7 linked regions of the Homo sapiens genome follow. The protein of the gene in region 5 interacts with the protein of the main gene of each other region in a pairwise test. Each region holds a gene or a part of one and is shown on either strand. Other genes may lie near its edges. The genes, in order: RBM5, MORF4L1, CNOT11, RAD52, MEOX1, EIF4EBP1 and TRIML2.

Evidence for each region.
Region 1: the proteins of MEOX1 (region 5) and RBM5 interact in binary tests that used the Homo sapiens proteins (3 or more experiments, as listed by UniProt).
Region 2: the proteins of MEOX1 (region 5) and MORF4L1 interact in binary tests that used the Homo sapiens proteins (3 or more experiments, as listed by UniProt).
Region 3: the proteins of MEOX1 (region 5) and CNOT11 interact in binary tests that used the Homo sapiens proteins (3 or more experiments, as listed by UniProt).
Region 4: the proteins of MEOX1 (region 5) and RAD52 interact in binary tests that used the Homo sapiens proteins (3 or more experiments, as listed by UniProt).
Region 6: the proteins of MEOX1 (region 5) and EIF4EBP1 interact in binary tests that used the Homo sapiens proteins (3 or more experiments, as listed by UniProt).
Region 7: the proteins of MEOX1 (region 5) and TRIML2 interact in binary tests that used the Homo sapiens proteins (3 or more experiments, as listed by UniProt).

Annotation. Positions count from the first base shown.
Region 1 is NC_000003.12:50,112,634-50,116,329, forward strand, and holds part of RBM5 (RNA-binding protein 5), read left to right. Parts: intron 1-749; coding exon 750-911; intron 912-1,316; coding exon 1,317-1,466; intron 1,467-1,546; coding exon 1,547-1,618; intron 1,619-2,794; coding exon 2,795-2,974; intron 2,975-3,272; coding exon 3,273-3,347; intron 3,348-3,388; exon of another isoform or gene 3,389-3,696. UniProt on the Homo sapiens protein: Component of the spliceosome A complex. Binds to ssRNA containing the consensus sequence 5'-AGGUAA-3'. Regulates alternative splicing of a number of mRNAs.
Region 2 is NC_000015.10:78,889,673-78,893,567, forward strand, and holds part of MORF4L1 (mortality factor 4-like protein 1), read left to right. Parts: intron 1-1,316; coding exon 1,317-1,342; intron 1,343-1,811; coding exon 1,812-1,900; intron 1,901-2,539; coding exon 2,540-2,641; intron 2,642-3,866; coding exon 3,867-3,895. UniProt on the Homo sapiens protein: Component of the NuA4 histone acetyltransferase (HAT) complex which is involved in transcriptional activation of select genes principally by acetylation of nucleosomal histones H4 and H2A.
Region 3 is NC_000002.12:101,251,757-101,255,685, forward strand, and holds the start of CNOT11 (CCR4-NOT transcription complex subunit 11), read left to right. Parts: upstream 1-1,129; 5' UTR 1,130-1,208; coding exon 1,209-1,722; intron 1,723-3,929. UniProt on the Homo sapiens protein: Component of the CCR4-NOT complex which is one of the major cellular mRNA deadenylases and is linked to various cellular processes including bulk mRNA degradation, miRNA-mediated repression, translational repression during translational initiation and general transcription regulation.
Region 4 is NC_000012.12:928,909-932,803, reverse strand, and holds part of RAD52 (DNA repair protein RAD52 homolog), read left to right. Parts: exon of another isoform or gene 1-1,482; coding exon 1,483-1,584; intron 1,585-2,659; coding exon 2,660-2,753; intron 2,754-2,917; coding exon 2,918-2,985; exon of another isoform or gene 2,986-3,040; intron 3,041-3,895. UniProt on the Homo sapiens protein: Involved in double-stranded break repair. Plays a central role in genetic recombination and DNA repair by promoting the annealing of complementary single-stranded DNA and by stimulation of the RAD51 recombinase.
Region 5 is NC_000017.11:43,651,674-43,655,568, forward strand, and holds part of MEOX1 (homeobox protein MOX-1), read right to left. Parts: intron 1-3,895. UniProt on the Homo sapiens protein: Mesodermal transcription factor that plays a key role in somitogenesis and is specifically required for sclerotome development. Required for maintenance of the sclerotome polarity and formation of the cranio-cervical joints.
Region 6 is NC_000008.11:38,036,831-38,040,725, forward strand, and holds part of EIF4EBP1 (eukaryotic translation initiation factor 4E-binding protein 1), read left to right. Parts: intron 1-3,895. UniProt on the Homo sapiens protein: Repressor of translation initiation that regulates EIF4E activity by preventing its assembly into the eIF4F complex: hypophosphorylated form competes with EIF4G1/EIF4G3 and strongly binds to EIF4E, leading to repress translation.
Region 7 is NC_000004.12:188,106,726-188,111,342, reverse strand, and holds the start of TRIML2 (probable E3 ubiquitin-protein ligase TRIML2), read left to right. Parts: upstream 1-1,739; 5' UTR 1,740-2,100; intron 2,101-4,617.

The sequences.
Region 1 (3,696 bases), on a different chromosome or scaffold from region 5:
ACCCTGTGTGTGGTTGCCTGGTATCCAATGGATTCTATGTGGATGGGCCCAATGATGAGCTGTTGTCATGGCAGATGTCTGAACTCCATGACACGCCCACCTGTTCTGGCTGCCTGGTTTATGTAAATAGTCTGTGGAACAGAGTGAGACAAATTGCTCTTTGGGTGCCCTCTAGGTAGGCCCAGGGATTAAATTAATGGGAACTAGACTTTTTAAATTTTTATTATCATTTTTTTTGAGATGGAGTCTTACTCTGTTGCCCAGACTGGAGTGCAGTGGCATGATCTTGGCTCACTGCCACCTCCTCCATCTCCCAGGTTCAAGCAGTTCTCTTGCCTCAGCCTCCTGAGTAGCTGGGATTACAGGTGTGCCATCATGCCCAGCTAATTTTTGTATTTTTAGTAGAGATGAGTTATCACCATGTTGGCCAGGCTGGTCTTGAACTCCTGACCTTGGGTGATCTGCCCACCACCACCTCCCAAAGTGCTAGGATTACGGGCATGAGCCACTGCTCCCGGCTGGGAACTAAACTTTTTAAAGAAATCATATTCTATTTTTACTCTAGCAGTGTCACACCTCTTTGCTAGGTGGTTCATCACCTTTACTTATACCAAGGTGTGCCCAGGGTCTTTTCTGGGCAGGAAATATCACTAGTCCACAACATACTTTATCTTTTTTTTGACAAAATATGTAATCGACTGACATAGCAGAAAGTCTGCATTAATTGTTTTTTGTTTGTTGTTTTCTAGTACTACTATAATTCCTTGACCCAGCAGTACCTTTACTGGGATGGGGAAAAAGAGACCTACGTGCCAGCTGCAGAGTCTAGCTCCCACCAGCAGTCGGGCCTGCCTCCTGCAAAAGAGGGGAAAGAGAAGAAGGAGAAACCCAAGAGCAAAACAGCCCAGCAGGTTAGAACATGACCCATATTTCTTTCATTGAGGTATTGGGCTGAACTCTTAGTTTTGGGGTTGTAGCATTTATGTCAGTATTATTTGGATTCTTAAAAATTGGGCTTCACATTTTATTCATACTAAGTTCTTAGAGCATTTTGCAATTTGTTATTGTTACCATATCTTGACTGTCAGCCTGTGTACTTAGGGAAAAAAGCCCTGGAAATCTCAAAGCTTTTCAAGCAGTATTTATGAATGACTTTGGTTATATGTGATAACATCTAATGGAAATATTTGTAGGTGGAAGTAAGAGTAAAAGGGGTTTGTTACAGGGCATATAGTTGAGATAAGATCCTTAATGGCTCATTCTCATGGCACAGGGGATTAAATATTTTTTTGTTGGTGTTTGTTGTTTGACATTAGATTGCCAAAGACATGGAACGCTGGGCTAAGAGTTTGAATAAGCAGAAAGAAAACTTTAAAAATAGCTTTCAGCCTGTCAATTCCTTGAGGGAAGAAGAAAGGAGAGAATCTGCTGCAGCAGACGCTGGCTTTGCTCTCTTTGAGAAGAAGGTAATAGCAGGAATGGCCAGTATGTCATGATGGGAACTTACCTAAAACTTGAGTCTCATGGCTTGTCCTCTGTTTCCCAGGGAGCCTTAGCTGAAAGGCAGCAGCTCATCCCAGAATTGGTGCGAAATGGAGATGAGGAGAATCCCCTCAAAGTAAGGGAGTACCACCAGTGTTTTAAAGACCCTATCTGTGGTTTGTGTCTCACTTTAAGGCTCAACTGCATCTTGGCTAATGTGATTCCTACTTAAAACTGAATGTGATCACTGTTGATGGGTATTGGAGCAGTTTCTGCACATAGATTCCATGTCGGGGCTTTGTTTTCTGTGAGAGCAGATGAGATGGAGTGATGAAAGAAGCTTCAATTCCTAAGCTCAGTTAATTAAGTTTCATTGCATCTGTGAGTGGAGAGTTTTAATGGTCTGGAAAGAGAAAATTAAGACAAGAAAAAGCTTGTTTTACTAGATAGATACTGGTCTGGGTGGGCCATTATTCTGATATGTTGTATTTGGGATTTTTATTTGTGGTCAGTGGTTTGAAAATAGTCACTCAGTCTAGGCAACATTGCAAGACTTCGTCTCTACTGAAAATTAGAAACAAATTAGTTGGGTGTGGTGGCTTGCATCTGTACTCCTAGCTACTTGGGATGCTAAGGTAAGAGAATTGCTTGAGCCCAGGAGATCAAGGCTGCAGTGAGCCACTGCACTTTTTGGGGATCATACCATTGCACTCCAGCCTGGGCAGTGAGCAAGACCCTGTCTCATTTAAAAAAAAAAAAAACAAAAACAGTCTTGGCACAGTGGCTCACACCTGTAATCCCAGCACTTTGGGAGGCCAAGGCAGGCGGATCATTTGAGGTCAGGAGTTCGAGATCAGCCTGACCAATGTGGTGAAACCCCATCTCTACTAAAAATGCAAAAGATTAGCCAGGGGTGGTGACAAGCGCCTGTAATCCCAGCTACTTGGGAGGCTGAGACACTTGAATCACTTGAACCTGGGAGGTGGAGGTTGCAGTGAGCTGAGATTACGCCACTGCACTCCAGCCTGGGCAACAGAGCGAGACTCCTTCTCCAAAGAAATAGAAAAAGGTAGTCACCCAGGAATCCATTTCTTAGGCTCCAAGAAGGTTGGTACCAGGAGGCTGTCAGGCCTAGCACTCAAGGACCTGACTGCTCCACGCAGTTGACAAAATGTGATTCATTACTAAAGTGTGACATGCAGTAATGGGGATTTGTTAACATTTCGGATGAGGCATTACTTTATCCAGGTACATAGCCACCGCCATCTTCCTATTGTACATTTCCAGTGACCTGTCCTCCTTTTGTCTCCAGAGGGGTCTGGTTGCTGCTTACAGTGGTGACAGTGACAATGAGGAGGAGCTGGTGGAGAGACTTGAGAGTGAGGAAGAGAAGCTAGCTGACTGGAAGAAGATGGCCTGTCTGCTCTGCCGGCGCCAGTTCCCGAACAAAGATGCCCTAGTCAGGCACCAGCAACTCTCAGACCTTCACAAGGTGGCCATGCTTCTGAGCTGATCTGAGGGGGCGAGGGGAGGCAGTGAGACAATTTGAGTGCCCTAACAGTCCTGACGGTTCCAAAAATACCTGCCATCTAATGATGGCCTTACAGAAAGCTGTTCCCGATGACAGTGGACGGAGTCTGGCAGCTCCACACACATCAAACTATAGTTTTTATGTGATTGTGTATTGTTTGGGCTTTGGCTCTTAAAGTACAGTAGATGTTACTAATGTTAGGACATTTCAAATTAAGATGGTCTGAGTCCTTACTGTGTCTTTCAAATCTTTTGTGTAGCAAAACATGGACATCTATCGACGATCCAGGCTGAGCGAGCAGGAGCTGGAAGCCTTGGAGCTAAGGGAGAGAGAGGTGAATGGGAAACTGTGCCACAAGGAAGAGGATATTGGGATAATTGCCTTTAGCTTTTATTTGTAGCATTTAGTTCCAGATCCCAGGGGCAGGGTAGGAGGATTTGTCATACCCTTGTCATCTGACCATTGTAGTTCATGTAGCCTAGACCCAGCCTCTGTGTGCCTTGTGAGCCTCACATTGTCCCTTCATCATAAGGGTGCACAAGGCAGAAGCACACTGCCGAGACTCTCTCACAGCAATGCCAGAGCTTGCTGCTTAAATACGCTGGATTTTGTTATGGAGAGAGTGGTCTAGTTTGGCCTGGCCAGGGAAGCCTTCATGGGCAAAGAAGTGCGCTTCAAATTAA
Region 2 (3,895 bases), on a different chromosome or scaffold from region 5:
AGATTTTTACAAAACTAACAGACAAGAGAAAACCTATACACAGATTTTTGTGTTTATATCCAAACATAAGTTAATTTGAATTGTCAAACCTTAAGACCTAAATTAAATGAATATATTTAATTAATAACATTTATAAGTATTATTTAAAGCTACAGAAAAGTAAAAAATCCAGGTGTTATAGTATCTTTCCATCGAAAGTAATCCATAATCATGGGCTCTATAAACTGTTTCCTTTGTGGTCTAGAAATAATAATGTAAAAAAGCAAAATTAGGCCAGGCATGGTGGCACACGCCTGTAATAGCATTTTGGAAGGCCGAGGTATGCGAATCACTTGAGGTCAGGAGTTTGAGACCAGCCTGGCCAACATGGTGAAATCCCGTCTCTTAAAATACAAAAATGAGCTGGGAGTGGTGGTGGGTGCCTATGGTCCCAGCTACTTGGAAGGCTGAGGCAGGAGAATCGCTTGAACCCGGGAGGAGGAGGTTGCAGTGAGCCGAGATCACCCAACAGACAGAGCAAGACTCCATCTCAAAATAAATAAATAAAGCAAAATTAGCAATTTACCATTTGACAGTATATAAGTGACGTGAGGTAAGTTGCTGTTAGAGATGATAATCAAGATGAGGAGACTTAAAACAAAAAAATTACACAAATCTAAAAATATTTTGGGGAACAAAAATAATTGGAAAAAAATTTTAACCTTTGACACCTTTTTTTTTTGGTGGGCCTAATAATGTAGTATATACTATAACATATATTAATATAACCCTGGAAGAACGAAGTTGTTTACTAAAGTGTTCTTGGTTTGCTTTTCTTTTTTTTTTGTCTTTGAGACAGGGTCTCTGTCACCAAGACTGGAGTGCAGTGGTGCAATCAAGGCTCACTGCAGCCTTGGCCTCCTGGGCTCAAGCAATCCTCTCACCTCAGCTTCCCAAGTAGCTGGGACTATAGGCGTTTGCCAGTATGCCCAGTTAATTTTTGTATTTTTTATAGAGAACAGGATTTGCCATGTTGCCCAGGCTGGTCTGGAATTTTGAGCTCTAGAGATCCACCCCCTCTTCACCTCCCAAAATGCTGGGATTACAGGCATGTGCCACTGCGCCTGGCTTGGTTTATTTTTTTCTATTATGTGGAGAGAGATGGGAATTTAACCAACTATCAATAAAAATCCTTGTGTCTGAGTAGGACACATATTTACCACCTGATCCTTTATCCAAGTTAGTATTTCTCTGTGAACTTAACCCTGATAAAGGGAGTTGAAACAGAGGCAGTTTTACTGGAAATAATTATTTTTCTTTTTTTTCTCTCCTTTTAGGAAAACGAAAAAGAACAAACAGAAAAGTAAGAATATTAACTTTCTTAACGTTAATTTATGTTACCTCTATGACATTGACGTTTTTATTTTGAAAGCTATGAAATTTTGGAGTAAGCTTATGTTTATTGATTATCTCAAATAGGAGTCTCACAGCAGTGTTATAAAATAGGTACATGGTGGTAGAGACCTCTTTTTGCCAAGGAGAAACTTGTGAGCATTTATTTTCATCTGCTTTAGTCTTAATGTCTCCCACTGAGAAGATAACATTTATAAATAAATGGAAGATGGTGATACTAAATGTTGTCTATACTAAATGTTCGGTAGAGCTCTTCATGAAAGTTGTATTTTTGGTAGGAATATGATTCTTTAACTTAGATTGAGGTAACAGCTGTGTAATGGAGAAATAATGAAAAGGGTTAATGTGTCAAGAGACTATTTTCCTTATAGAGTTTGTTAAATTAGCTAAATGAGACCCCTCCCCGCCAACATTTACAGCACCTGGAAATGGAGATGGTGGCAGTACCAGTGAGACCCCTCAGCCTCCTCGGAAGAAAAGGGCCCGGGTAGATCCTACTGTTGAAAATGTGAGTTTTTCTTGTGTTTATGAATAGCATGTTAGGATTTTTAGTCTCAGTTACATGACATAACCATGGGAGCTTTGATTATCTACAAGATTTGCTTACATGGTTAATACCTGAAATTAAAAATTTTCTCTTTTGGGGGTAAAGGATAAATTTCTGTATATCTTTATTTCACCTGTAGCTCCAGATTTACCTACCCAATTGATCATTTGTTGTGTAAGCTTCATGTTCACCTACAAGACTATTTCTTTGGTGTTACGTATTTATTTTTAGGAGTTAAAGATGTACCTTTAAGATGGTTGTGTTTGGAATAGTTTTGATATCCATGGTAAATAAGAAAATACTAAGTTAAAATGTATCAAGTCAGGGTGTTTCATTTCCTGAACAAGAGGAACCTTACTGAAGAATTTTTACCTTTACAAGAAAATGCACTAAATAGACTATAGTTCAGGTCAGATTCTTTTCTCCCAACAGCGAACCGCGTATGGTCGTTTTTATTAATGATTTTAAAAAATGACAGTACAGCTGTATGCTTGGCTACTTTAAGATTTATCCCTAGTGCCTCTAAAAGTCAGCTCCCCTCCATGTTTGGTATTTAGCAAGAAAGGTTAGGTTTTTAATACTCCTCCTGTTTCTGTTTAGGAGGAAACATTCATGAACAGAGTTGAAGTTAAAGTAAAGATTCCTGAAGAGCTAAAACCGTGGCTTGTTGATGACTGGGACTTAATTACCAGGCAAAAACAGGTAACTTGAAAAGCTACCCAGATTGTTAAGCTATATGATACATTCTTGCTAGCAAAAAAAGTTTTTAAAGGAAAATGTTATATTGACTTGAATTATTAAGGTATGACTGATAAAATAATATTTTAATTTAGAGGCTGAACACTTTAGAACTACTACCAGAAAGAGTAAGTTAGAAGAATAAAAGTTCACATATAAATTTTATGAGGTTATAATGATAAAGGTGGAAATAACTCATTTTTGGAGATTGCTAGGGCAGGAACTCGTTCTGAAAATTCATAAAGGTGAAGAAGCATATGTCTTACTGTCATTGCTAATGGTAGGCCATAGAAAGCACACACCACCACCTGCAAGGTATTCATGACCCTGAAAAGAACCTGAATCTTACTAAGCGCCTGGATCTATTGTTAGTTTGCAGGAAATAGGATGTTTAATGGAGTGACATGTTTGTCAATCGTTGAACTCTATAATTGAGAATTTTATAGGACAAATGAAGCTATTTGAACAAATGGCATAGGTAGGGTTAGGGATAGTTGGGGGAGATGATTAGGGACTGCTTGAGGATTATGAGACTTAAGAGACCTATCAGTCATATACAGTATGTGGATATAGTTTGAATTCTGATTTGAATCCTTTGGAGGGTTATGCAGTTACAGCTAAACTGCGAAGATTCAAGCATGGCTGTATCACTTATTATTTGTGAGTTTGGACAAGTTTCTTAGCCTTTTTGTGCTTCTGTTTTTGCATTTAATGGAATAATAGTTTGTATTTGACAATGCTGATGAGAGGACGAAAAGATAATTATTTTAATGCTTTAGACTAGATCTAGCAAATAGTATGCATAACAGTAAATGATGACTTGGTAGTACCACAAAGGCACATTCGTGTCTGTTATGTGTGTGTGACAGATTGACATTTTTAAAAGCTGTGCTGTTCTGTCTAGTAGAGTCTCATTTGGCTGTTTAAATATATAGATGCTCCATAACTTAGAATGGGGTTACATCGCAATAAACCCAGCAGAGAGTTGGAAAATTAAGTCCAAACCATTGTAAGTTGGGAACTGTCTGTAGTTTCTCAGCCACATTATCCATGTTTTAAGTGCTGAATAGTATCTTTCCTAATTTGAAATACTGTTACTGTTACCTGATCTTTGTATAAAAACTTGCCTGGTATGATTTTTCTTTAAAAAAGAGAGTGCTTATATTTAAGCATATTTTTGTCTTCATAGCTCTTTTATCTTCCTGCCAAGAAGAATGT
Region 3 (3,929 bases), on a different chromosome or scaffold from region 5:
TGAAAAAAATTTTTTTTACATAAAATATCTTTCTCCCCAAAAACACATAAAATAAAATAAAAATATGTTTTAAAAAAGAATTGAGGTGGCTCTTAACTAGATAATTAGAATCGCTGGTGGTAATCACTGGCGAAATACGCGTACGTTTCTGTAGGTTTAGGGACCGGGCAAGTCTGGGAAATGCCACCTGGTGGTTCTCAGCCCAGACTACACCTCAGACTCACCTGAAGAGGTGGGGTTTATTAATATCTCAATCAGCATCTCTGGGGGTGGAACTAGGTATTTGTAACGTCTCCCCGTGGGTTTCTAATGCACAGCTAAGTGCCCAGGATAAGTGCCCTAGGGCAATCTAAGTAAAACGTGGCACAGCAAACAATTTTGTAAATGAATATTAACTGGAGACATGTTCTCGAAATCATGTTAAGAGAAAAAACCATGTACAAAAAAGCTCATAGTGCAGTATGATTCCATTTCTGCAATGAGTGTAAGACTAGAAATTAACCGTGGTTATGTGAAATGTGTGGTATATTTGCATTTACTAAATTAAAAAAAATGTTTCTGAGACAGAGCGCCCGGGCTGCAATGCAGTGGTGATCACAGCTCACTGCAGCCTGGGACTCCCGGGCTCAAGCGACCCTCCCGCCTAGGACTCTCAAAGTGCTGGGATTACAGGCACGCGCCACCACGCCCGGCCTGCATTTACAATACTTTTTACGACGAATACTTACGGATGTTATATTAAGAAAATAGTTAACATCTGAGGTGCATTCTTCCAAATAATAACGTAGACAGCACTTACTGGGACCGTCTGGCACCAGGAACCGTCCTGGGGACCGCCAAAGGGCGGCTTAACCTCGCAGCTGCGCAGACGCATGCAGTCCCCGGGCTCTCCTGCCGCGGGACCTCGGCAGACCTAACCCTGAACGCCACCAGCCCGACCTCGCCCCGCCCCTCCCCTCCCTTCCCGGGCCCCGCCCCCGCTTCCTGCCAATTCGCCCCGCCTACCCCGCGTCTCCGCATCCTCTTCCTGGCTTCGCTCCATCAGCCTCGCTTTCGCTGGGCGCTGTCCCTCTCCGCGGCGGTCTGGTTTCCCCGACGTGTTTTGTTTGCGACGCTGTCGTGTAACAGCGCGCTTTACGGCCGCGGGGACGGAGCGAGCCGGCGCCAGGGCCCCTCGGGCCGGGAAGAGGGGAAGGGGAGCGAGGTTGATGCCCGGCGGAGGGGCGAGCGCGGCGTCTGGCCGGCTTCTCACCGCCGCGGAGCAAAGAGGGTCCCGGGAAGCGGCAGGGTCGGCGTCCAGGAGCGGCTTCGGGGGCTCCGGCGGCGGCAGAGGCGGAGCAAGCGGCCCCGGGTCCGGGAGCGGAGGCCCGGGGGGCCCCGCGGGCAGGATGAGCTTGACCCCGAAGGAGCTCTCGAGCCTGCTGAGCATCATATCGGAGGAGGCGGGCGGCGGCAGCACCTTCGAGGGCCTGTCCACCGCCTTCCACCACTACTTCAGCAAGGCCGACCACTTCCGCCTGGGCTCGGTGCTCGTCATGCTGCTCCAGCAGCCCGACCTGCTGCCTAGCGCGGCGCAGCGCCTCACGGCGCTCTACCTGCTCTGGGAGATGTACCGCACCGAGCCGCTGGCCGCCAACCCCTTCGCCGCCAGCTTCGCGCACCTGCTCAACCCCGCGCCGCCCGCCCGCGGCGGCCAGGAACCCGACCGCCCTCCGCTCTCAGGTACCTCCTGAAGCCAGCTGTGCCGTGTGGATAGCGTTAGATTCCGCAGCTTTCCACCTGCGCTGCTGGGAACTCACCTGAAAGGGAAATTAACTATCCCTGTGAAATGATCATCCTCTTTTTCCGCCTCTCTCTGCGTTCCCACGCCCCTCACTCCTCCCCGCCTTAACTCTAAAGAATGGAGAGGTGGTAGCTTAATTGCAAGTTCGTGACACCGAAAATGATTTCTCTATACACCCCATCACATCATACAGCTCAGTGTAGGTCTTGACATGTTTAGTGTCTCAAATACGGTTCGTTCTTCGAAAACCCGTCTGTGGTGTGTGAAGTTAAAACCAATGATAAGACTGGATCTGTCCCCGGTTTTTAGTCTCAAAGGAGTACGTGGAAGTCAGTATTAAGAAGCTGAAGAAGTTGGTGGGCGGAAATACACATGAAACACCTTAAAGACTTTGCAGCCGCCTTTCTTAGCCTGTTAGGGATGGGGGCAGAGGATAGAAAGTCTCAAATTGATGATCTCGCGTTTGGAAACACATGACTTACTGGACATTATGTAAAGTGCATACGTGGTATACATTATGTAAAATGTATTTACTATTGTGTGGCATTGGTGAGATCAAACTAGTAGGTTAGATGCGAGGCTGCATTTTTTTTTGTTTTTAAGCTCAAGCAGGTGATGCTTTATGTGGATTTGCTTTGCGAGAAGACTTGCAGTCAGAAAACAAGAAAAATGGCATGTTGACAACGGGACCTGAAGGATTTAGGAACCAGTGTAGTGGAGGAAGCACACAGAGATAGGAAACAGCTTGATCTTACATTCCTTAACCAGTATAGGTAGGGCCTGCTATACAGTGAGTCAAGGCTAGGCAGTAGATTTTGAAGTAACACCAGGAGTTTGTTTTTATGGTACAGGAGGGCCGCGTTTCTAGTTAGTGTTCCTGCCGGGCATCCCATCAGGATCTTCTGATAGGTGTCCTGTAGTGCCCTTATCTAAGAAGGGCAACCCTTTGTATTGGCCTGAGATGCCTTTAGGGTACAGGTACTTAACCTGCTTCTAAGAAGCTTGTGACTGCCCAGAAAGTGAATGTAACACAGGTTTGTGGTCAAAACTCACCACCTAGGCCTGGCTAGGTGGCTCACGCCTATAATCCCAGCACTTTTGGAGGCCGAAGTGGTGGAGGTTGGGGGGTGGGAATTGCTTGAGGCCAGGAGTTTGAAACCATCCTGGGCAACATAGTAAGATCCTGTCTTTACAAAGCAATAAAAAATTTGCTGGGCATGGGGTGGCTAACACCTGTAGCCCCAGCTGCTCAGGAGTTTGAGGCAGGAGGATCACTTGAGCCTAGGAGTTTGAGGCTGCAGTGAGTTAGGGTGACAGCTTCTAAACACACACACACACACAGACAACCACCACCCTAGGGTGCTTGTATTAGAGGATTGGGACACTGGGATTTAGATCAGAGGGCCCTTTGAATTCTGAAGAACAAGTGAGGCAAAGAAACCGTGACTTATATAATGTCATTCTCATGTACAGTGAATCTAAACCCACACCTAGTCCGTAGACCGCATTATACACACAGATTTGCCATAGGTGGGATGGCAGTCACCAGAGAAGGAATCCATGGATGGATTATATTTAACCATTTTGTGCCTCAGATTCCTCATCTGTAAAATGCAAATAGTAACAATTCCCAGCTGGTAGAGTTGTTACAAAGAATAAAAGTACCTGTGAGTGGGCTGGGCGCGGTGGCTCACGCCTGTAATCCCAGCACTTTGGGAGGCCGAGGCGGGCGGATCACAAGGTCAGGAGATCGAGACCATCTTGGCTAACACGGTGAAACCCCGTCTCTACTAAAAATACAAAAAATTAGCCGGGCGCGGTGGCGGGCGCCTGTAGTCCCAGCTACTTGGGAGGCTGAGGCAGGAGAATGGCGTGAACCTGGGAGGCGGAGCTTGCAGTGAGCCAAGATTGTGCCACTGCAATCCGGCCTGGGCTAAAGAGCGGGACTCCGTCTCAAAAAAAAAAAAAGTACCTGTGAGTGTTACCCACTATTATACCATTATTAAAGTAGGTAGGGATGGTGTGTAGATAACATAGAAGAGAAAATATCAGTGCCTACACTCCACTCCCAGAGCTGCTGATATTGTATGTTTAGGGTAAGACATTTAGTGGGTATGTCTTCAGAATGCTTTTCAGATGACTCTGA
Region 4 (3,895 bases), on a different chromosome or scaffold from region 5:
AGTACGTTGACGCGGTGCGTGCGGGGGCAGTACCTAGTACGTTTACATAGTACATGTGTGAGCTATTTGTTATTGGTTTTTCCTTTAGATGCATTTTTTGGGAGTCTTGTGAACTCTGGAGGGCATTTTGGAATGTTAGCTATCAAAAGACTGATAGTACTGGGGATTAGATTTAGATTTTAAATTTTTTGTGGGGGGGGATAGATAACATATTTGTATGACATCAAATTCAAAATGAAACTGTGAAAATCTCCCTATTTCCTATTGCCCCTGTGTGCATGCCACCCAGTTCTATTTCTTTTTTTTTTCGAGACTGAGTCTTGCTTTGTCACCCAGGCTGCAGTGCAGTGGTGCGATCTCAGCTCACTGCAACTTCCACCCTCTGGATTCAAGCAATTCTCCTGCCTCAGCCTCCCAAGTAGCTGGGATAACAGGCATGCACCACCATGGCCAGCTAATTTTTATATTTTTAGTAGAGATGGGGTTTAACCATGTTGGCCAGGCTGGTCTCGAACTCCTGACCTCAGGTGATCCGCCTGCCTCGGCCTCCCAAAGTGTTTGGATTACAGGCGTGAGCCACCACGCCCGGGCTTAATTTTTTTGTATTTTTAGTAGAGATGTGGTTTCACCATGTTGGCCAGGGTAGTCTTGAACTCCTGACCTCGTGATCTGCCTGCCTCGGCCTCCTAAATGCTGGAATTACAGGCATGAGCCACCGCGCCTGGCTCCAGTTGTCTTTCTTGGAGGCATGGAAAGTTACTGGGGGTCCTATTCCTTGTAGGGACATTGTGTGCACAGAAAAGAGTTTCTTGCTTTGTCCACCCAAACTCCATCTTTGTCTTTAGCAGAGAGTTGTGAGTATTCATCTCATCTGAGCAGGGCAAGGGGGACAAAACCCAAATCAGCAAGCAGTAGTGTGTTTCTGTTTGTGCAGGATGGGAAATTGTTGTATTGGAGAAGGCGTCAATCTCTGGAAAGGACAAATGGAAGCAAGGCTTCCTACCCCCGTGCTCTTTCCGTACTTGCTTCCTGTGCTGACGTCATTTACAGATCTGGAGGCAGAACATTTTAGCTTCCTAAGCTTCAGAAACATTTATAAGGATGGTAGCAGCAGCTAAGGCAGCAGTTCTCAAAATGCAGTTCTCAAAAACCCTGGGGTTTCTGAAGATCTTTCAGAGTCCAGAAGGTCAAAATTATCTTCATAATAATACTATTTGCCTCTTTCACACTCATTGTCTCATGAGTGAATGGTAGAGTTTTCAGAGAGTGCATGATATGTGGTGATGTCACTGCTATGATGCCTAATGGCATGCATGCCTTAAAAGTTTCTCAGTTTTGATTCCTAATAGGATACATAGAACCCACATAAACAAAGGTTCTGGGGGGTCTTTTTAAGAGTATAAAGTCTCCATAAAGGATGGAGACTCAATGATGTGAGGAATGGTGGAAGTGTGAATTTAATTTTCTTTTTTGGGGTTGCAGTGCCAGTACACAGCAGAAGAGTACCAGGCCATCCAGAAGGCCCTGAGGCAGAGGCTGGGCCCAGAATACATAAGTAGCCGCATGGCTGGCGGAGGCCAGAAGGTAGGAGAATTCATGTGCCTGGAAAGCAGGCATCCATACCGCAGACTCCGATGGTCTTGCCAGTTCCCTCTCTGGGTCCTCAGGGATTCGGAAGTCTGCTGTTAACTGTTCCTGGAGGTCTCCCAGTGCCCCTGGGAGGGGATGGGTTCCAGACTTCATTCTCATCCGAAGGGGCCTGGGCATGGTCTTGACACTCGCATAACCGCCGTCTTAAGATTTTTACATCATCTTTTTTTTTTTTTATTTTTAAAGACAGGGTCTTGCTCTGTCACCTAGGCTGGAGTCCGACCAGTGGTGTCATCTCAGCTCACTGCAGCCTCCACCTCCCAGGCTCAAGCGATCCTCCTGCCTCAGCTTCCTGACTAGCTGGGACTACAGGCACACGCCACCACACCTGGTTAATTTTTTAATGTTCTGTAGAGACGACATCTCGCCATGTTGCCCAGGCTGATCTCGAACTGCTGGGCTCAAGTGATCCTCCCACCTCGGCCTCCCAAAGTGCTGGGATTACAGGTGTGGGCCACCATGCCCAGCCTTTACACCATTAAAAAAAAAATGTTCCTTTTGCCATTTGCTTTTTTTTTTTAATTAAACACTTTTTAAAGAACTTATGATTGACACATAATAATTGCATATCATTTGCTTCTAATTTTAACTTCTGTGTATATTTTTGGTCTTCCATAAAATATGTCAAACAGATTTGTACTTTTTGCAAACTGAATTTTAGCAACTGCTGGGTGAGTTCCTCCTCCCAACAGACCATTCGTTCTCGCGGGCTCCATCTAGAAGATTTTTGAAATAAATTCATTGAGAATTTTCTTGAAAAAAAAATTTTTTTTAACAGACTGGTTCTCACTCTGTCACTTAGGCTGGAGTGCAGTGGCACGATCCTAGCTTACTGCAGCCTTGAGCTCCTGGGCTCAAGTGATCCTCCCACCTCAGCCTCCCGAGAAGAATGTTTAAGGACAGTTTATCGAAAAAAGTAGATGAGGAATAAATTATGTCAATTTTGATTCACATTTAAGTGTGGTAAGGAATTAACACAGCTTTTCCTTAAAAACATTTGTTTTTCTAGGTGTGCTACATTGAGGGTCATCGGGTAATTAATCTGGCCAATGAGATGTTTGGTTACAATGGCTGGGCACACTCCATCACGCAGCAGAATGTGGGTGAGTATGCTCTCCAGCAGTGGGGACTTCTGCACTGTCCAGCTCCTGCTGAAAGTCTGCTGTGGGTGAGGAGGTAAGGTAGGTGGACTCAGCTGCCAGCAGGAGGAATGGTTGTGGCCCAGCGGTCAGTGTCCTCTTCAACTTGCTCTCTTTCCCACTCCTAGATTTTGTTGACCTCAACAATGGCAAGTTCTACGTGGGAGTCTGTGCATTTGTGAGGGTCCAGCTGAAGGTGAGGGGATGGAGTAGACCTGCTGCCCGGAAGGATCAGTGGGTGGTAGGAGAAGGTGAGCAGGTAGGGAAGTAGGTAGCTGGACGGGGACCCAGGCTCCAGAGTTGTGTCTCAGCCAGCGTTCCCTAGAGTGGTGGAATTCAAATACTCTTGCTCATGTGCTCCCTAAAAGAATGGAAAAACTGTTCTCTTGCACATGTTCAAGCTGACACCTAAAAGTTTTCACCATATATAAAAATTGTTGCAAAGGATGTATTTTTTGGCATATGGTAAAATCTGACATTTTAAAATACAATAATTTTACCATCACTGATAAGTGTTTGGAAACTCAACTTTAGGCAAAGCAGGTCCTTTTGTTATAACATTGATGAAAACAAAAATATGTTTTGTTAATAAGTTGTTTCACTTCAAGTCACAGTTATTTAAGGTGTTAAGTGAGCACTTACCGTAAATCTGTTGAATCTTGTTAAATATTCCAGTGGACTCTAAATACTATAGAGGATAAGATCTATCATTTATTTGAAGAAATACAATGAACAAGCTTTTTTTTAATCATTAGAAATTTTACATTGTTCTTTCTTTATCTGAACTCATATTTCTATTCTATTTCCCCACTGGTTTTAATCCTAATACATATTTATGGTTGAAAGTTTGGCTAGGCGGGGTGGCTCATTCGTGTAACCCCAGCACTTTGGGAGGCCCAGGTGGAAGGACTGCTTGAGCCCAGGGATTTGAGACCAGCCTGGGCAACATAGCGAAAGCCCGTCTCTACTAAAAATACAAAAAATTAGCTGGGCATGGTGGTGTATGCTTGTAGTCCTAGCTACTCAAGAGGCTGAGGTGGGAGGATCACCTGAGCCCAGGAAGTCGAGGCTGTGGTGAGCTGTGATTGCGCCACTGAACTCCTGGG
Region 5 (3,895 bases):
CTGCAGGGGCTGTGAGTCCTGTCTCTCAGGCAGAAAGGATTCTCTGCCTCTGAGTTATCCCCCCTCCCTGGGCCCAAGTGCCCGTGATTTATTCAAGCCAGAGAAATAGGTGAGCGGGCAGGAATCCTGAGTCCCTAGCATGGGAGAGTGGCGGAGCAGAGCTGAGGTGACCCCTGGGCTGACCTTCTTACAGCTCACGGGCTCATTGGATCTTTCCCTCTTCGATGTTGGTCAGGATCCTGCTGCCTCAGCAGAAACGGACTTTCTCCAGAGTTTCCGACTATACCTGATCAGGGGCCTGAGCAGGCCCAGGCGTGGGATTTGTGCTGGAGCCTCTGAGTTCAGATGGTGGCCGAGGCCTGGGTCCTGCTTTGGGCTCTGAGCTTTCTTTGCTTGTCAGAAGAGGAGGTCAGGAGCTCTAATCAGGAGGCCGGGGATGCCCAGAGGGATACTGGCTGAGTGTGGAGTTGCTGTCTCCCCTCCCACGCTGGCCACTCTGGACCATAAAACTTCTTCCTCACTAGGGGTTCTGGACATGGACTCGGGACAAGAGGAGCTGCTGCAGCGGTGCACCCCTCAAACCACACCCCACCCAGCACTGCCACAACCCTAAGCCAGTAGCATCGTCAGAGTCAGGCAGGCCCGGCTGACAGCAGGGGGCAAAGACTTCAGCAGAGCTCAGGACACTTTGGCCTGTTTTTGAACGTGGGAAACCTGATGCAGCCAGCCAGCATCAGGGGAGGACTTTAAAGAGAGAGGGGTGCTCATATGTGGGTTTGGGAAAACTGGAGCCAGGGGTTACCAAGTGTTGGCTGTGGACTCTACATCTCTGATATCATTTAGTCTCACAGCTACCCACCTTATGAAGTAGGTACTGTTACCCTCATTTCTCAGAAGAGACTCAGGGAGGGTTAGGACTCACCCACGTCCACACAGCCAGGAAGTTGTGGATCAGGGACCTGAACCAGGGCTACCTTGTTAATTCGCTTGACCTTAGTCTCTGACCACCCTTCCTCCTATTACTGTACCGTGGCCCAGCAAGAAGGTGAGCATGGGCATGAGGTCACTTGTATGGGACTTGGCATCACTCTGGCGACCCAGGTGACACTTATTGGGGTTGTCCATTTATTTCATTCTCATCTCTACTATTGCTTTTTTTTTTTTTTTTTTTTTTTTGAGACGGAGTCTCACTCTGTCGCCCAGGCTGGAGTGCAGTGGTGTGATCTCGGCTCACTGCAAGCTGTGCCTCCCAGGTTCACGCCATTTTCCTGCCTCAGCCTCCCAAGTAGCTGGGACTACTGGCGCCTGCCACCACGCTTGGCTAATTTTTTTATATTTTTAGTAGAGATGGCATTTCACCGTGTTAGCCAGGATGGTCTCGATCTTCTGACATCGTGATTCACCAGCCTCAGCCTCCCAAAGTGCTGGGATTACAGGTGTGAGCCACCGTGCCCAGCCTACCATTGCCTTTTTTTTTTTTTTTTGAGACGGAATCTCACTCTGTCTCCCCAGCTGGAGTGCAGTGGCACGATCTTGGCTCACAGCAACCTCTACCTCCCTGGTTCAAGCGATTTTCCTGCCTCAGCCTCCTGATTAGCTGGGACTACAGGTGTGAGCCAACACGCCCAGCTAATTTTTGTATTTTTAGTAGAGACAGGGTTTCATCATGTTGGTCAGGCTGGTCTCAAACTCCTGACCTCAAGTGATCCACCCACCTTGGCCTCCCAAATAGCTGGGATTACAGGCGTGAGCCACCGCATCCAGCCCATGCCTCTTTTCTCCTTTCCTCTGTCAAACAGCTCCCTTCTTTAGAGATTCACTCCTAAAACTGCCTCCACTTTTTTTTTTTTTTTTTGAGACAGAGTCTGGCTCTGTCACCCAGGCTGGAGTGCAATGGTGTGATCCAGCTCACTGCAACCTCCACTTCCCAGGTTCAAGCGATTCTCCTGCCTCAGCCTCCTGAGTAGCTGGGACTGTAGGCGCATGCCACCACGCCCAGCTAATTTTTGTATTTTTAGTAGAAATGGGATTTCACCATTTTGGCCAGGATGGTTTTGATTTCTTGAGCTCATGATCCGCCCACCTCGGCCTCCCAAAGTGCTGGGATTACAGGCGTGAGCCACCGCACCCGGCCAACTGCCTCCACTTTTTATGTCTGTACTTGTTGGTGTAAGATAGGAAATCAGGGATCTGCTTGTGGCTAGAAACAACTTCCTGTCTCAGTGGAAAAGCTCTACCAGCCGACAGGACCCTGAGCTAGGAAAGCTCTGGGGTCAGGCACACATCTGGGTGCTGCTTTCACTAAAGGGGTTTTCAACTGAAGGGTCTGTGCCACAGTTTGAACCTTGTCCCTTGTTCCTGTCCCCGTACAGTCCTGTACAGTCCCTATAAGGGCAGAATTGTGCTTCCCTCCCCAATTCCTATGTTGAAGCCCTAACCCCAGTACCTTAGAGTGTGTCTGTATTTGGACATAGGGCCTTTAAAGAAGGGATTAAGTTAAAATGAGGCTGTTAGGGTGGGTCCCAATCCAATCTGCCTGATATGCTTATAAGAAGGGGAGATTAGGGGCTCATGCCTGTAATCCCAGCACTTTGGGAGGCCAAGGCGGGCGGATCACCTGAGGTCAGGAGTTCGAGACCAGCCTGGCCAACATGGTAAAACCCCTGTCTACTAAAAATGCAAAAATTAGCCAGGTGTGGTGGCACACGCCTGTAATCCCAGCTACTTGGGAGACTGAGGCAAGAGAATCACTTGAACCTGGGAGGCAGAGATTGCAGTGAGCCGTGATCACGCCATTGTGCTCTAGCCAGAGCAACAGCAAGACTCTTGTCTCAAAAAAAAAGAAAAAGGAAAAATTAAAAATATGGTCAGGTGTAGTGGTTCACACCTGTAATCCTAGCACTTTGGAAGGCCGAGGCAGGAGGATTGTTTGAGGCCAAGAGTTCAAGACCAATCTGGCCAACATAGCGAGACCCCTGTCTCTATATTTTATTCTAATAATAAATAATTTTTTTGGAAAATTAAAAATATAATTACTACATAATATAGCAATTTCCCTTCTAGGTATACACTCAAAAGAATTGAAAATACACTCTCCAGCCGGGTGCAGTGACTCACACCTGTAATCCCAGTGCTTTGGGAGGCTGAGGCCAGTGGATCACGAGGTCAGGAGATTGAGACCATCCTGGCTAACACAGTGAAACCCCGTCTCTACTAAAAATACAAAAAATTAGCCAGACGTGGTGGTGGGCGCCTGTAGTCCCAGCTACTCGGGAGGCTGAGGTAGGAGAATGGCATGAACCCGGGAGGCGGAGCTTGCAGTGAGCTGAGATCGCGCCACTGCACTCTAGCCTGGGTGACAGAGTGAGACTCCGTCTCAAAAAAGAAAAAGAAAAAGAAAATACACTCTCCAGGAGGTATTTGCACACTCATGTTCATTGCAGCATTATTCACAACTGCCAAGAGGTGGAAGCAACCTACATGTTCATCAACAGATGAATGGATAAAGAAATTTGGTGGCCGGGCACAGTGGCTCACGCCTGTAGTCCCAGCACTTTGGGAGGCTGAGGCAGGCAGATCACAAGGTCAAGAAATTGAGACTATCCTGGCCAACATGGTGAAACCCCGTCTCTATTAAAAATACAAAAATTAGCTGGGCGTGGTGGCGTGTGCCTGTAGTCCCAGCTACTTGGGAGGCTGAGGCAGGAGAATCACTTGAATACGGGAGGCGGAGGTTGCAGTGAGCCGAGATCGCGCCACTGCACTCCAGCCTGGCAACAGAGTGAGACTCCGTCTCAAAAAAAAAAAAAAGAAGAAAGAAATTTGGTATATCCATACAATGGAATGTTATTGTCTTCAGAAAGAAGGAGGCCAGGCATGGTGGCTCACACCTATA
Region 6 (3,895 bases), on a different chromosome or scaffold from region 5:
GTAGAGATGAGGTTTCGCCATGTTGCCCAGGCTGGCCTCAAACTCCTGAGCTCAAGTAATCCACCCGCCTTGACCTCCCAAAGTTCTGGGATTAGAGGCATGCTCCACTGTGCTTGGCCTGGGAAGGCACAGCAATATTGAAAAAAAGGAACATTGCTTTCTAAGGTGAGTTTTAAAAAAAAAAAATGTTCAGTTGTGCACATAGATTCTTGCCTGTGCCAACAAACCCATGAAAAACCTGTTTCTTTCTGGTCTGACTTAGACCCATGCCTGGGGTCTCTCTCCATTATGATTCATAGCGAATGAATCACACGTTTTTGTTTACGTGTTTGTTCCCTAGGTTAGCCAGGAAATTTTTTCTGAGCAGTCTTACTCATCTTTGTATCCACATGACCTAATGCCAGGTCTAGTGTCTGGAAGGTGAAGAGTTGAAAAGAATGCTGGAATGAAAGCGTTCCCCTCAGGATAACCTAGTTTTCTTATTTTATTTATTTATTTATTTTTGAGACTGAGTCTTGCTCTGTCGCCCAGGCTGGAGTGCAGTGGCATGATCTCAGCTCACTGCAACCTCCACCTCCCTGGTTCAAGTGACTCTCCTGCCTCGCCTCCTGAGTAGCTGGGATTACAGGCACGCACCACCACACCCAGCTAATTTTTGTATTTTTAGTAGAGACGGGGTTTACCATGTTGGCCAGGATGGTCTCAATCTCCTGACCTTGTGATCCACCCGCCTCGACCTCCCAAAATGCTGGGATTACAGGCGTGAGCTACCATGCCTGGTCAGGATAACCTAGTTTTCTTACTGTCAGGCCTGAGTCTCCGCTGGCTTAATGATGACGTTTAAATTTCCTTTTCTGTCCTTTCAGTTGCAGGGTATAAGTGTTTATCTCAGAATGTCCCAGGGGCAGAAACTAACTTTCTCTGTTTTGATGATGTTGTCTGTTTTTTGTTTGTTTGTTTTTTGAGACAAAGTCTTACTCTGTTGCAGGTTGGAGTACAGTGGCACGATCATGCCTCACTGCAGTCTCAACCCCCTGAGCTCAGGTGATCCTTTTGCCTCAGCCTCTCCAGTAGCTGGGACTACAGGCACACACCACCACGCCTGGCTAATCTTTAAATTTTTAGTAGTGACAGAGTTTTGTCATGTTGCCCAGGCTGGTCTGGAACTCCTGGGCTCAAGAGATCCACCACCTCAGCCTCCCAAAACACTGGGATTACAGGCGTGAGCCACTGGACCAGCCAGAGAATAACCTTCTCTGAACCCTCCTACTTATCCTCATACAGATAGTCCCCGATTATGATGGTGTGACTACAATTTTTGACTTTACGATGGTATGAAAGTGATATGTGTTCAGTAGGAATTGTACTTTTAAAAATTGTTTTAAGACAGATTCTTGGCCGGACACGGTGGCTCATGCCTGTAATCCCAGCACTTTGGGAGGCTGAGGTGGGTGGATCACGAGGTCAAGAGATAGAGACCATCCTGGCTAACATGGTGAAACCCCGTCTCTACTAAAAGTACAAAAAATTAGCCAGGTGTGGTGGCACACACCTGTACTCCCAGCTACTCAGGAGGCTGAGGCAGAAGAATCGCTTGAACCCGGGAGACAGAGGTTGCAGTGAGCCGAGATCACGCCACTGCACTCCAGCCTGGGAGACAGAGCAAGACTCCATCTCAAAAAAAAAAAAAAAGGCAGAGTCTTGTTCTATTACCTACATTAGAGTGCATTGGCATGATATCGGCTCACTGCAACCTCCGCCTCTCAGGCTCAAGCAATCCTCCCACCTCAGTCTCTCAAGTAGCTGGGATTACAGGTGTGCGCCACCACGCCCAGCCTAGAAATTGTACATTGAATTGTGAATTTTGATCTGTTTCTGGGCCAGCGATACGAGGTACATGCTCTCGAGATGCTCAGCAGGGACAGTGAGCTGCAGCTCCCATTTAGCCCCACAAACATGAGGACAAATGGCCAGTCACAAGCTTGTCCAACCCGAGACCCTCAGGCCACATGCACTCTGGACAGCTTTGAATGAGGCCCAATACAAGTCCGTAAACTTCCTTAAAACATTATGAAATTTCTTTCTTTTTTTTTTTTTTTTAAGCTCAGCTGGAGTGCAATGGCACAATCTCGGCTCACTGCAACCTCTGCCTCCCAGGTTCAAGTGATTCTCCTGCCTCAGCCTCCTGAGTAGCTGGGATTACAGGCACGCGCAACCACACCCAGCTAATTTTGTATTTTTAGTAGAAATGGTGTTTCTCTATATTGGTCAGGCTGGTCTCGAACTCCCAAGCTCAGGTGATCCGCCCACCTCGTCCTCCCAAAGTGTTGGGATTACAGGCGTGAGCCACCACACCCAGCCAGTGTTAGTGTATTTTATGTGTAGTCCAAGACAATTCTTCTTCCAGTGTGGCCCAGGGAAGCCAGAAGATTGGACAGCCCACTATAGAGTCTATAGTGTGCTGTGTTGCCAGGTGGTTTTGTCCAACTGTAGGCTAATGTAAGTGTTCTGAGCACATTTAAGGTAGGGAAGGCTAAGCTATAATGTTCAGTAGGTTAGGTGTACTAAATACTTTTTTTTTTTTTTTTTTTTTGAGTTGGAGTGTTGCTCTATCGCCCAGGCTGGAGTGCAGTGGTGCAATCTCTGCTCACTACAGCCTCTGCCTCCCAGGTTCAAGCCATTCTCCTGCCTCAGCCTCTTGAGTAGCTGGGATTATAGGCGTGTGCCACCACACCCAGCTAATTTGTATTTTTAGTAGAGATGGGGTTTCACCATGTTGGCCAGGCTGGTCTCAAACTCCTGACCTCAAGTGATCTGCCCGCCTCAGCCTCCCAAAGTGCTGGAATTACAGGCGTGAGCCACTGCACCTGGCCCTAAATGCATTTTTGACTTAAGATATTTTCTATGTATGGTGGATTTATTGGGACATACTTCATTTTAAGTCAAGGAACATTTGTATTAAACAGTATTGCTGGTATTTCTTGTCCCAATATTACCGAACAGGGAGTGGATGTGACTTTTTTTCTTTTTTTTAAAAAGCAAAAACAAAAAACTTTTAACAGATAGGGCCTCACCTCTGTGGCCCAGGCTGGAGTGTCTATGGGCTGAAGTACAGTGGCGCGATCACCACTCACTGTAACTTTGAGCTCCTGGGCTCAAGCAATCTTCCTGCCTCAGCTTCCCGAGTAGCTGGGACCACAGGCACATGCTACCACACCTGGCTAATTTTTATTTTTTGTAGAGATGAGGTCTATGTTGCCCAGGCTGGTCTTGAACTCCTGGCCTCAGGCAATCCTCCTGCCTCAACCTCCCAAAGCATTGGGATTACAGATGTGAGCCACTGCATCTGGCAACTTTTTCTTACACTGAACAAGCCAGTATTGGGGCCGGGGTCTCAGACACTGTGACTGATGCTGTTTATTTACCTGTTTGCATCCAGCATTGCTGACAAGGCAAGAGTAAGTAACTGCTGCTCACTGACATTTGGGTATGCACAGCAAAGGGCTCCATGTAATCTGATGGTTATGCCCATGAAAGCTCATTAAGAGAGCTCAGATACTAGGCCCAGAGGATCAGGGCTTCTTAGGTGTGCAGGGACACTTGGTGAAAATGGTTGTATCAGTTAGCTATTGCTATATAACAAGCCATCCCCAAACAGTAACTAAACAGCAGCGATTTGTTATTGTTCTCCATCTTTTGGGTTCGTTGGGTTCTTTGTAGATCTTGCTGAGCTTACTCATATGGCTGCATACAGTGTACAGCTGGACTGTCCTGGGGTGGAAGCTCCAAGATGGTCTTACCCATACATCTGGGGCATTGCTGGGGACAGCTGGAAGCCTGGGAGTTCCCTCTATCCTCTTGGTCTCCCAACATTCTGATCACTCAGTAGTCTAGC
Region 7 (4,617 bases), on a different chromosome or scaffold from region 5:
CCATATCTTCAATTTTCTGCACCCAGTGCTCTTGGTCAATTACTTAATCCCGTGACTTAATCTCTACGTCATCTACTTCATCAGCTGCAGATGTACCTCACGGGGTTGGAGCATGCAACAGGTGGGGCATGTAACAGTAAATAAGGGTTTAGCACACTTTTTTGTAATGTTTTTAGAATTATCTTAAAATATTGACTCTTCTAGAATTAATAATTTAATTATTAATAAATATTTATTTAATAGTAAAACAGGCTTTAATAAGTATTTATTTAAGCATTTAATACTCTAAAACAGGCTTTAAGAGACTTCAAAACCTGACAATATGCTTGATGTTTATTTTCCATTTGATTCAAAGATTACAAAGTTTTCTTGTCAAGATGAGTAAGCTCAAGAGTTATGAAAGCTCAAGGGATGGTGAGAGTAAATGACAGAGTATCTGACAACAAGTATGTGTGAGTATCTTCACAGACGTTGGCCGTACCCAGGCTTAGAAGAGAAAGGAAGATTGGATTAGAAAAATAAGAGAAGTAAAGGAGGATGGACTGGCTGAGGAGGGGAGGGGGCACAGGAATAAATGTGGTCTATTTGAAGAAAGCTGGGGAATTGGGTTTTGGAAAAGAGAGTGGGTGTAGGTAATCATCTGAGATAAGAGAAAGGGTGTATGGCCAGGCGCGGTGGCCAGAACTTTTGGAGGCCAAGGAGGGTGGGTCACCTGAGGTCAGGAGTTTGAGACCAGCCTGGCCAACATGGTGAAACCCCATCTCCACTAAAAATACAAAAATTAGCTGGGTGTGGTGGGCGCCTATAATCCCAGCTACTCGGGAGGCTGAAGTGGGAAAATTGCTTGAACCTGGGAGGCGGAGGCTGCAGTGAGCCGAGATCGCTCCACCGCACTCCAGCCTAGGCAACAGAGTGAGACTCTCATCTAAAAAAAAAAAAAAAGAAAGAAAAAAGAAAAAGAGAAACGGTGTATTGAGATTCCATAAGGTAGAACCAGGTTCTGAAAGATCAGATAAGCAAAGCAGAAGAATTCTCATTATCCTGTCAGCAGCATAAAGAAAAAAACTCCCTGGTTTGATTAGCAGGGGATTGACTGACTGATGCAATAAAAACCCTCGGGGACAAAACTATAAAACTTAGAAAGCTGTGAAGAGTTCCTCCTCACTGAAGCCAAATATCAAGTATGAATTATCTGGGATTGTTCCCTGACCTCCCATCTGTGACAGATTCCATAGGCAGTTATCCCTACTCTTGGTTTTTCTTTCCACAGATACTGGAATGAACACTTCTCCAGCAAACGTTCTAGAAACTAACAAGTCAGGCATTATTTTCTACTAAGGAACAAACACAGTCTTGAGTGTTAGCTCGAAGGCTTCTTTCCTGTGAAATTGTCAATATACACTAGATTCATTAAGAAAGAAAACCCCAAACCTTAAGGAGCTAGAGGTGTTAGGCACTGTACATGGCACTGGAGATAAAACAAGATATTTATCCAACCAAGGTCAGGGCTATTAAGCATTTTCTGGGAGTCCATTAAAAATGTAAATTACGGACCCCACCGTAGATTTCTGGAATCAGAGACCCTGTGAAGAGGCTTGCGTTTTAATAAACTCAGGTGGTTCTAATGAGATTAATTGTGTGAATATGATAAGAAACTTCACAGACGCCTTCCTGATGGTGTGAGGGCGGGGCTGAGGGAGGAATTGAACAGATAAAATCTCTTCAGTCTCCACTGTTCCAGCTTTTTCCCTAAAGGAAATACCTTGGTTCGGTGTGGTGACTCATTCCTGTAATCCCAGTACTTTGGGAGGCTGAAGCAGGCAGATTGCTTGAGCCCAGGAGTTCAAGACCAGCCTGGGAAAAATACTGAAACCCCGTCTCTACAAAAAATACAAAAATTAGCCGGGTGTGGTCGTGCAGCGCCTGTAATCCCAGCTACTCAGGAGGTCAAGGTGGGAGAATCACTTGAGCCTGGGAGCTCGAGGCTGTAGTGAGCCGAGATTGCGCCACTGCATTCCAGCCTGGGTGACAGAGCAAGACCCTGTCTCAAAAAAAAAAAAAAAAAAAAAAAAGGAAATACCCAGGATTGCTACAAAGAAAGTAAGTGAGATTTTCTCTATAGATCATTTTCTTAATAATTGTTTCTTTAGATTTCTAAACTTGATCTTAGAATCTATGTGTGTGTGTGTGTATCTGTGTGTTATCAGGAAAAAGCCTGAAGAAAAATATTAGGAAAAACAAAATAAGGGTAGACAACATGCTGGGGACTTAATTCGTCAATTTTCCTTTGCTGTTTCTGTAAAAATATTTAGTCTCTGTCCCTCTCTCATTACACCTTCAATTTTTACTGGTTTAACATAAAATATCGTTTACAATATTTATTGTGCATCGAGTATGTCAGATGTAGACACAGGGCATCTCAAGGACTTAGTTTCTTATGGATGGAGAGTGACCCACAAGTAAACTTGTTCATAGAAAGATAAAATCTTTTCGCTACTAAGAAAATAAAATAAGGAGATGAGTAGTGGGAAGGTATTTCAAATTGAGTAGTGATGGAAAGGTCTCTCTTGGGAAGACATTTGAGCTGAGAACTGAAGAGAAGAAAGAAGAGGCAGCTGGAATTGCAAAAATATGAGAGAAGAGCTCTGTTGGCCACGGAAGGGGGAAGGGCTGTGATGAATTAGAGGCAGCTAGATTGACAGTGATGGGGGAAAGCTATAGAGAGATCAGAAGAAGGCAGGAGGCCAGATTGTATAGGACGGGGTTATTACCCACTTCGATCTTACTCTAATGCCATAGAAAGTGACCACAAACCTGCTCACTTGGTTTTGGTTTTAAAATAGTATTCTGGTGGTTGAGCAGAGAGGAGCTGGAGATGGACGAGGAGGGCAGGACAGAATATAAATTTGGAAAACAATAGTTGAATTGGTGAAAGGAAGGCTTAAACTGTGGCTCTAAAGGAATGAGTTTGGGGGAAGAGAGCCACTGGGTTGAGATCCTGAGCGGCTTTAGATATGTTAATTTTGAGTGCTCCTTAGACATTCTATTGCAAAAATGTTGGGAATTGGGCAGGAGATTGAAATCGGAGAATGGAACTTAAATCTTCAGAAACGAGTAAGATTACCTAGGGAGAGACCAGGACTGGGAGACCAGAACTCAACCTTGAAGCACCCCAAGATTGAGAGGTTCAGAGGATGTGGGACCAGAAAAGGCCACGGAGAACAAGACCAGACAAGTTAGAGGAATGTCAGCTGCAGACAGATGAGAGAAGAAAACATTCTAGGAAGAAGGGTGTGGTCAGCTATGTTAACTGCTGCTGAGAGCTCAAGGAAAAATTTGAGTTGGTGAATTTCTTTGTTTTGGTGACTCAGTGGAGTCATCTCGGACATGTTCAGGGACCTAAGACACGGGAAACCAGCAGGGATTTCAAAGACCTAAGCAGAAGAAAGGATGAGAGCATCAAAAACAAGGAAGGAGGGAGAAAGTATTTGCAACTCACACAATTTACAGGAACTTGGATCTATAGCTCTCTCTTAAAATTGACCCCTCCCTCCAAAAAGGCCAAACCTGATGGAATAAACTGAGAGAGAGGCTTGAACATAGACTTCACAGCAAAAGAAGTGAAAATGGTTTTTTAGCATATGAAAATAAAAGGCTTAGACATATTAATAATATAACAGATGGAAGTTGAAAATATATGAATACACTATTTCTCACCCAGCCAGTGGGCAATGATCCAAAAGTTTAACATCTTTTTAATTTGTTGCTTGGAGTGCAAAATTGTACAACTTTTGTGCTTGGGAAACTGACAAAACATATCAAAATTATGGATGCATTCATTCACAGTCCTATTTGTGGGGAATATGCCTTTTCAGGCCAAGATTCTCAACTTTTTGGAATCAGTACTCCTTTGCACTCATTATTGACGAAGATCCCAATAAGCTTTTGTTTATGAGCGTTAATATCTATGTTTACTGTATTAGAAATTTAAAACTGCATTTTATAGTTATTCATTTAAAATAATAAAAACAAGCCAGGCACGGTGGGTCACACCTGTAATCCCAGCACTGAGGCTGAGGCGGGCAGATAACCTGAGGTCAGGAGTTCCAGATCAGTGTGGCCAACACGGTGAAACCCCGTCTCTACTAAAAATACAAAAAATTAGCTGGGTGTGGTTTCACGCGCCTGTAGTCCCAGCTACTCGGGAGGCTGAGGCAGGAGAGTCGGTTGAACCCGGGAGGCGGAGGTTGCAGTGAGCTGAGATCGTGCCACTGTGCTCCAGCCTGGGCGACAGAGATTCGGTCTCAAAAATAAATAAATAAGTTAATAAAATAATAAAAACAAAAACATTTTTCTGAGAAAAAAGTTTTCGAGCTAAGTGGCTTTTTTAATAGAGAAAGCCAGAATTACAAAGGACTTAAGAAGGACATTGGGGCCCTTCTTCTTGCCAAAGATGGGCACAACGTCGACAAAGCGCCGGTGGTACCGCACCCGCGGCTCAGCCCGGCCTGTCTTCTCGCTTGGCCACCTTAGCAAGAGTCTGACCTGTCACTTTCCCAGCGCGGGCCGGGGAACCACGGACTTGGCCTCCCGGGCAGTCGGGGCCTCCCACTTCGC